Regions from separate parts of the Homo sapiens genome. Here all the other regions are linked to region 3. The links come from fine-mapping of genetic effects on gene expression. A gene starts in region 3. Each other region holds a variant in brackets. All regions are shown on one strand. Distances are from middle to middle.

The links. PIP is the estimated chance that this variant, and not a neighbour inherited with it, causes the effect.
Region 1: its variant is fine-mapped to the expression of STEAP4 in monocytes after LPS (Fairfax 2014, PIP 0.95).
Region 2: its variant is fine-mapped to the expression of STEAP4 in whole blood (TOPMed, PIP above 0.99).

What each region holds. Positions count from the first base shown.
Region 1 is chr7:88,498,108-88,500,879 of GRCh38, forward strand. No RefSeq gene overlaps it. Among named protein-coding and RNA genes, the nearest start is that of STEAP4, 190 kb to the left of the region's middle. The variant G/A (reference allele first, on the strand shown) is at 1,136.
Region 2 is chr7:88,268,763-88,271,534 of GRCh38, forward strand. It overlaps STEAP4 (STEAP4 metalloreductase), which reads right to left. Exons shown (of 5, transcript NM_024636.4): 5 at 2,130-2,772. Among named protein-coding and RNA genes, the nearest start is that of STEAP4, 37 kb to the right of the region's middle. The variant C/A (reference allele first, on the strand shown) is at 1,071.
Region 3 is chr7:88,305,529-88,308,300 of GRCh38, forward strand. It overlaps STEAP4 (STEAP4 metalloreductase), which reads right to left and starts at 1,366. Exons shown (of 5, transcript NM_024636.4): 1 at 1,264-1,366. The region is part of intron 1 of LOC124901692 (a long non-coding RNA gene); the gene reads left to right.

The DNA of each region.
Region 1 (2,772 bases), 190 kb after region 3:
GGGCAAATTGCTGTCTATCTCTGAGTTTCAGTTTCCTTTTTTATAAAACAGACATCATTATATCACCTCGGAGAGCTATTGTGAGGAAAAAAAAGTAGTATTACATTAATACTTACAGTAGTTTCTGGAACGTAATAGGTATGATGTTAATTCTATTCTACCCTGATGCCCTGAGGAGTTATTCAAGATCCTGAGAATTTCCTTGCTGAGGATGTGTTTACACAAGGTCCACATTTCTTAGCTATACTGTGTTTTGGAGTCTAAATTTTTCCCCCCATTCTCTGTATACCTTTCTACTTTCATTCTGCTCTCCTTTTTGGTCAGTCCTATTGAGTTACATGGCCTTGATGATGACATCCACAGAAGACCCTGGTTTGTCTGTCTTTAGCCCTCATCTTCCTCTGGAGCTCTAGGCTCCTATTTGTATTATCTGTGGATATCTCACTTTAATATCCTGTCAACATATCTGAATAGGGGCCCCAAACTGAACTAATAACTTTTCCTTCCAAACCTGCACCACTTTCTTCGTGGCTTTTGGGTCAGTTTAACTGACTGTCCCAGAAAGCTTGGAGTTATATTCGATTCTTATCAGTACTCCTGTCCTTGATAGTCTGTCAGCCACAAAGTTCCATGGACACTGCCACCAGAAATCTCTCACTTTTATCCCATCTTTAACTTCCTCTGCCCTTAACAGGGCACAGATCTAGTTACCTTCCTCCATAATTATGGAGGTGACCTTTTACTTATTCACCTGACCTTCATCCATCTCTTCCCTTTTCAATCCATTCTTCACTCAGCTATGAGAGTTATCACAGTCTCAAGACTGTCGTTTCACTTGTCAGAAACTTCAATAACTATCACTTTCAGACCAAACTGTAAAACAGTAGTGTGGTATTAATATTTATGTCCTGATTTTGCCCAGACCTACTTTTTAAATAAAATTTCTTTAATTAAATATAAAACTTTTCAAACTTAGAGATAAGTATAAAGATTATGTAACAGAAACCAATATACTGGCTAATTAGAATTATAATTCATTGATATTTTCCATATTTGCCTCATATTTTTGTTATATTTACACATGTTTAAATAAAACCAAAGTCCTACCTCCTCATCCCTTTCCCCACCATCCCTG[G/A]TATCTACCAACCTTATTTTCCCCTTTCTTTGTCATACCCTATGCTCTTGGGGGGTAGTGAGGTGAAAGAGAGGTGATGTTTAAGGTGAGAAGATCTAGAGATGGTTCTCTAAGGAGATGATCTGAGCACACATGACTTCTCTCAGCACAAAACCTCCACGTTATTTATCATTTTATTCCTTAGAAGACGGAATCACTGTCTTGTGAGGAGTATGCAATATAACAAAGTGATTTCTAATCATGGCCATGACACTTACAAGCAAGGTACTTAACCTCTATAAATTTAGTTTTCTCATTTGTAGAGTGGGCATCTCCGTACCTACCTTAAGAATTGTGATGATGCCTTGAGATAATGTAGGTGAAGTGTCTGGATCAGAGTCTGCCATCTAGTAGGCGCTCAATAAATTGTACCTGTTAATGCTGTTAGCACAGCAACTGAGGAACTGGAATGGATCATAATAGACCAGATGATTCAGTGTTGTTCTCTTGTTGCAGGAGCACTGCCTTCTGAATGTGTGAGTGCCATAAATGTGCCCCTGAGATTTTTAGGGGATTATTATAAAATCCAGAATGTTTGGATTTGGTTTGATCTTAAAGCATGGCAAATTCTAAGTCTACCCATAAGCCTGCTCCCCTCCACCAGCCTCTGTGTCACCACAGAGGCTGAAGTGCGTTACTTTGTGCGAAAATGTCCAGTGGTCATTGCCTACAGGGAACTACGATGTAGTTGCTTCAGTAAAGGCGTTGCTACCTGCTACAAAGCAATCTCATATTCTCCGTTTTATTTAGCTTAATTTTTGTACTTGAGCTAGGAAATAGTTAAGTGGATTTCTCACGTATATCTTTGACTTGAATTATTTTGAAGTGACTTCCTGAAATAAGACATCAATGCTACATCTGCCACAGAGGAAAAAAGAAACCGTACATATATGAATGATTATAATCCTCGCCCAAGGCAGGAGTCTCCCAGCACGCCAGAAAAGGCCATAAATCCATGCGATATCCCTGACTACTGCATTTTACATCTAGGACTCAGAGTAACTGAAAGGTATGTAAAATTGTGAGCAGGCAGAAAGTGGGTTGACTATACATCTGGGAAAGTTCTCATGCATTGCTTATTCCAGGCTGTTCATCTTGTGCTCATGAAGTCTGGCACTGTAACGCTTGTGGTTGATGACAGGAGCTGAATAACTTGTGTGCAGCTGAAACATTTATCCTCTTAAGAAGCCTCTCATCTTTTAACTATTGGTTAAAGCCCTTCATAGACGACATAATACCCTATTAGTATGGGAATTAGAAACAATCCTTTTCTTGTTCTGATGTTGAAACTAACTCTTATATGAAGGACGATAGAACTTTCAGTGATATATATATATATATATATATATATATATATATATAACATGTATAATATATATAACATATATTTTATGTATATATATTACATGAAACCCTAACCATTAACATTTAAAAGATAGACAGATACAAACATTTCTCATGATTTAGGAAATTTTGAAAAATGTGTTGATGAAGCCAGCTCCCAGATAGCATTATACTAACTCTGAAAAGTCAGATGGTAGATAACTTGGGAAAGGATAGAAATCTCATCTGGATTTTTCACATTTGCTTACAATTCA
Region 2 (2,772 bases), 37 kb before region 3:
GATGCTTTGTCAGTTAGGTTCTCCAAGAAGCAGGTACCAAGATAGGATGGGAGATTTATTGGAAGAAATGACTTAAAGGATAAAGGAGGAGGGAGCCTTCATATTGCAATGCTGGTCTTACACGTGCAAAAGATGAAGGCAAGGGAAACATTGGATAGGAGGAGATCCAGATCATAGTGCAGATGTGAAAAGGTCTTGGCTGGCCCAGTGGGAACATCCAAGCAAATGCTGCCCATTAGAGGAAGCTCATATGAGGCAATGATCCATTAGAGGAAGCTCATATGAGGCAATGATCCATTAGAGGAAGCTCTTTTGAGGCAATGATGGCTTTGTTCTAGTATCTCTGTTATGCATGGTCATTGCCTGGGAGCAGCCCAAGGGCAATGTGGATCATGTGAATAACGTGGTGCTTATCAATAATGTGGGCCAGTTGAAAGTTGTTTATTTGTTATGTTTCCTTGCAGCAGGTTCTCTTGAAGGAACATCTGAGTAGGTCATCTTCCATGACTGCCACTGATGTCTACTTGGTATTTTTAGCCAGTTTTATAAAAACTATTTTTATTGTAAAATTATTTTATATTAAAGCAGTTTTAACAGTCTTCTTCATATGGGGAAGAATTCCAACAGAGATGAAATAATGGACAACTTTTTGTTGTTGAATATTCCTAAAATGTTTACTAAGACTTTAAATATTATTTTAATGAGAGAACGTTAAAGAAGGGGAAAATGTTGTGTATCATTCTTTAGAATTCCAATAATCACAGTCAGCCTAAATATACCACTAGATAATTCTGTTTCTTTAGTCTCTGTCATGTTTTTTAAAGGCAAAGTACTCATCACAGACTGAAAAGTCCAAAATTGTCACTGGATATACCTGTTTCGGATCAGCCCTTTTGACCCCCATTTTTTTTTGGATCTACAACCAGCTTGTTTTCAACTTAATCACCTGATTTCAAAAGGATCGGAAAAAACCCTAGCCTGAAAATCAGTCATCTGTGGTCCAATTCTGCTTTGTTGCAATGTAGCTATGTGACCTTGCAGAAATTACTTCACCCTCTTGGGTTCAGTTT[C/A]CACATCTGTGAAATGAATGTATACTATTAGATAATCTCTAGGCTTCATGTAGTCTAAAAAACACTATAGTTGGAGTTGGAGGTTATGGATAACGTTTCTGTATTTCCTATCAAAAACTAAAATAAAGACATGGAGGCCATGTTTAGGAAATATGTGTAGAGCATATCTTTTGGAAAAGGGAATTAATATTTAAAACAATTTTCTATGCTGAAGGATAGGTTAATTTATATGAGATAAACTTTAATAAGAATATGGTGAGTGCTTTTTTTTAAGTAAACCTTTTATTTTAGAACAATGTTAGGGTCATAGTATTTTAAAATAATTTTAGATTTATAGCATTATTGCAAAGACAGTGCAGATAGTGCAAGATATTTTTGCTTTGTACTTAGGTTTAAAAATATTAATGGTAATCAGTGTAGGGTGGATGGTTTGGTGGTGGAAGGGGGCAGAGATGGGGCTAGAGGGGCAGACTATGGAGAGACTGGAATTAATGCTTTATGTGAAAAGAAATTAGGCATATTATTTGATGTGATCCTGAAATTTTGCGACTATAAAAATTTACAGTGAACATGTACACTAAATTAATAGAGACTCACAAGTTAGAATAACAGAAGCAACAATCACGTTATACTCTAAACCTGCACCTCAACTGGAGTTATATTTTTGATGCCTACTTGCTATTTTTAGCCAGTTTTATAAAAACTATTTTTATTGAAAATTTATTTTATATTAAAGTATTTTAAGTCTTTTTCATATGGGGAAAAATGCCAATACAGATGAAATAATGGACAACTTTTTGTTGTTGAATATTCCTAAAATGTCTACTAGGAATTTAAATACTATTTTAATTACAGAATGTGAAAGAAGGGAAAAATATCATGTTTTTGGTTTAGGGAACTGTGTTTTAAAAGGAACATTGAAATGTTTGTAGATCTGAACAAGAGGCACCAGAAAGATGAAAGATTTAGAAATTTTTATACAAGAGAAAACAGTGAATGTGCTGGTGTTTAGCGTAAGATAAGATTTAGCAGGGATATGCAATCAATTACTTTAAAAAATTTTTTGTTTATAATTTTTTAATTAAAAATTTTTAATTGACACACGATAATTATACATATTTATGGGGTACATAGTGACATTGCAATACACAAAATATACAGTGATCAGATTAGGGTAATTAGTATATCCATCATCTTAAGCATTTATCATTTCTTTCTGTTGAGAACATTCAATATCCTCCTTCTAGCTATTTAGAATATATATTATTGTTAACTGTAGTCATCCTACAGAGCTATAGAACACTACAACTTAATCTTCCTATCTAGCTGTAATTTTGTATCTTTTAACAAATTTCTTCCTATCCCCCATTACCTTTTAAATTAAATTTATTTTAATAATTAGGTAACCTACTCATGTAATTTAAAAACCAAAATGATATGAAAAGGTCTACAGTGCTTCTACTCCTGTCACTACTCCTCTGTTCTCCCATCTTGTTTGGTATGGATCTTTTGAATCCTTCTGAGAGTTTCTTTAGGCAATTAAAAGCAAATACACATATGCAAAAGGAATCATACTATATATGTTATTTTGTACCTTTTTAAAAACTGAACAGTATATTTTGGACATCTTTCCATATATGTGAAAGAAGGTGTCTTGGTTTGTTTTAAACAGCTGCATAGAATTTCATTCTGTGAAAGCATC
Region 3 (2,772 bases):
TAGGACATTCTCACATAGCAAGGCTGAAGAATGGTTTTGAAAGCTGAGAGTATTCTCTGAATGATAAATGTGGCAGAACTTTAAGATGCTCCTGTGGGAAGAGACTCTTCCCCCGACAACTGGAGAGTTTCCTTATAAAAATGGAACATGCATTATTATGAAAAAAGTAACCACTGAATTATAGTTGTAGCATTAAGGAGATTTTCTATGTATTTCAAACTTGCAGGCATCTTTAGTCACGGCTTTTCACCTTGTTAGAGTTGAACTTTCTGGATCATCTGGCCCAGTAGCCAGCCTTTTATTTTACATCTGTGGAAACTGAGGCTGAGATAATGAGGTTCTAGTTATTATAGAACTAGGAATAGTATTCTTCCTCCCCTCCCCCATTCTCTATCCAATTCACTTTCTCAGCTCACTGCAACCTCCACCTCCCAGGTTCAAGTGATTTTCCTGTCTCAGCCTCCTGTGTAGCTGGGATTACAGGCACCTGCCACCACGCCTGGCTAATTTTTGTATTTTTAGTAGAGACTGGGTTGCACTATGTTGGCCAGGCTGGTCTCGAACTCCTGACCTCAAGTGATCCATCGGCCTTGGCCTCCCAAAGTGTTGGGATAACAGGCTTGAGCCACCGTACCCAGCCTCAGTACACCAATCTTTTAAAGAAAGTTCCTAAATTACCATCTAGAGGTGGGAAAAAGAATAATAAAATTCTGTCTCTGGACAAACAAACGGAACTGAGGCTTTATTTACTCTTCACAATAAATTATATTCTGAACAATCTTCCTCCAGAAAAATAACCTTTAAATTGCAAGAGGAAATTTAAATCAAGATAAAAAAATGGAAGTGGTTGCAGGTATCAGGACAAATTTTTAGTGCCTGGTCAAGAAGCAGCCTCGGATCTGAGACCTTGGAGACTGACTGCTAAAGCCACATTCTTCCAGCCTACTTTTTGATGGGCGCCCCAAGAGTGCGCCAATCCAGAAGTAAGATGCAGAGAAGAATCTAACCCCTTAATTTTCCCCCTTTGGGCTTGTCTGCACCCTGGGGTAGGGATGAGCCTTAAACTCCAGGAAGTTAGAAGCTTGCTGAATCGCGGAGCAGCCTCAGGTGACTTTCCTCTAAAGTGATGCCGGGGCGCGGCGGGGAGTTTGCAAGCACCTGTTCTTCAGTGCGATGGGCTGGGGAGTGGGGTCCTAGCAGCAGGGACTGGAGGTGAGCTGAAGCAGATAAGGGACGGGAGCCTTGTGGCGAAAAGTGACCCACCTGAGGGAGAGGCGCTTCCAAGGAGGAAGCGTCCAGCGCCAACGGTGCGCGCCGCGGGCCGGGCGGGTAGAGGGAAGTTTCGCCGCGCCTGCAGCTCAGCGCTGTGGCTTGTGGCTCTCGCTGCTATAAGAAGCCAGAGAAGGGCGGGACGGTCTGCTGGATTTCGCAAGAGAAGCGGAAAAGAACTTGTTTCCTGGAAGAGTTCAAGCTGAGAATCCCAGCAGCTGGAAGGACCGGAACTTCTATACTGCGGTGCTGCTGATGGTGCCGCTGACCCCCGGGAAGCGGGGATTTTAAGGGTTACACCCGAGCCCTTGGCATCTGTGCATCCCAGGGTGATTGAGGTTTGGAGAGGTCTAGGAATCCCCCTTTCCTAAAGGAGCAAGAAGGATCTCTTTGAGTAGCTGAGAAAACAGCACCTGGACTAGGCTTCTAGGCAATTCTTTTGCCATCTTGTCTCAGTTTATAGAAAAGGTGGTATCTTTCCCCTCCGCCTGGAAGCCATGGGTTCTTATGGGGCTCATAACTTGGAAGATCTTGAGTTTTCAGGTCTTAATTTAGGTAGATTAAAGAAATAAAACAAATGAAAGAGGGATCGGGATACCTTATGATATACATGCAAATGTGTCTTTCTACAGAGAAGGTCAAAAACCACAGCCCTGGTTGTTTAAGATTGAAATAATCCTGATAAACTATGGGGCAAAGCATCCATACACTCCCAAACTCTGTAATCTAAATCCCAGAGTCTTCCCAATGATCTCCACTCAGCCATGGGTCTTAAATTCCACAGCATACGCTTGCCAAGCTCCAGAGGCCCGGCCACATGGGAGGCCTGTTCCTCCCATGGAAAGGGGTTGTTGAGTCAACCTTCCCTTTGTCTGGATTGCAACTCTCCTCATAGCTTCTTGTGGGGTTGGTCAGACCCCATGTCTTTCAAGAGGTCTTTTCTTAGCCATTAGTTGCAATTAATATTTTCTTTCTCTATACAGTAGTTTATACTTTTAGCACAGCAATTAAGACAATTTGCCTTTCAAAAGAGTTATTATCATGTGTGTGTGTCTTGTCCTGGACTGCAGTCTTCGAGGGATGACACCCTAGTTTTTTCAGTCTGGAATTTTCCATAACACCTAGCAAAATGCATTACTTAACAATGGGGATTTATTCTGAGGAATGCCTCATTAAGCAATTTATTAAATATATTCTGAGGAATGTCTCATCAAGCAATTTCGTCATTGTGTGAACATCATAGAGTGCACTTACACAAACCTAGATGGTATCACCTACTACAGGCCTAGGCTAGATGGTATATAGCCGATTGCTCCTAGTCTACAAACCTGTTCAGTATGCTACTTTTCTGAATACTGTAGTCAGTTGTAACACAATGGTAAGTATTTGTGTATCTAAGCATAGAAAAGGTATAGTAAAAATGTGGTATAAAAGATAAAAAATGGTATACCTGTATGGAACACTTACCATGAATGGAGCTTACAGGACTGGAAGTTGCTCTGG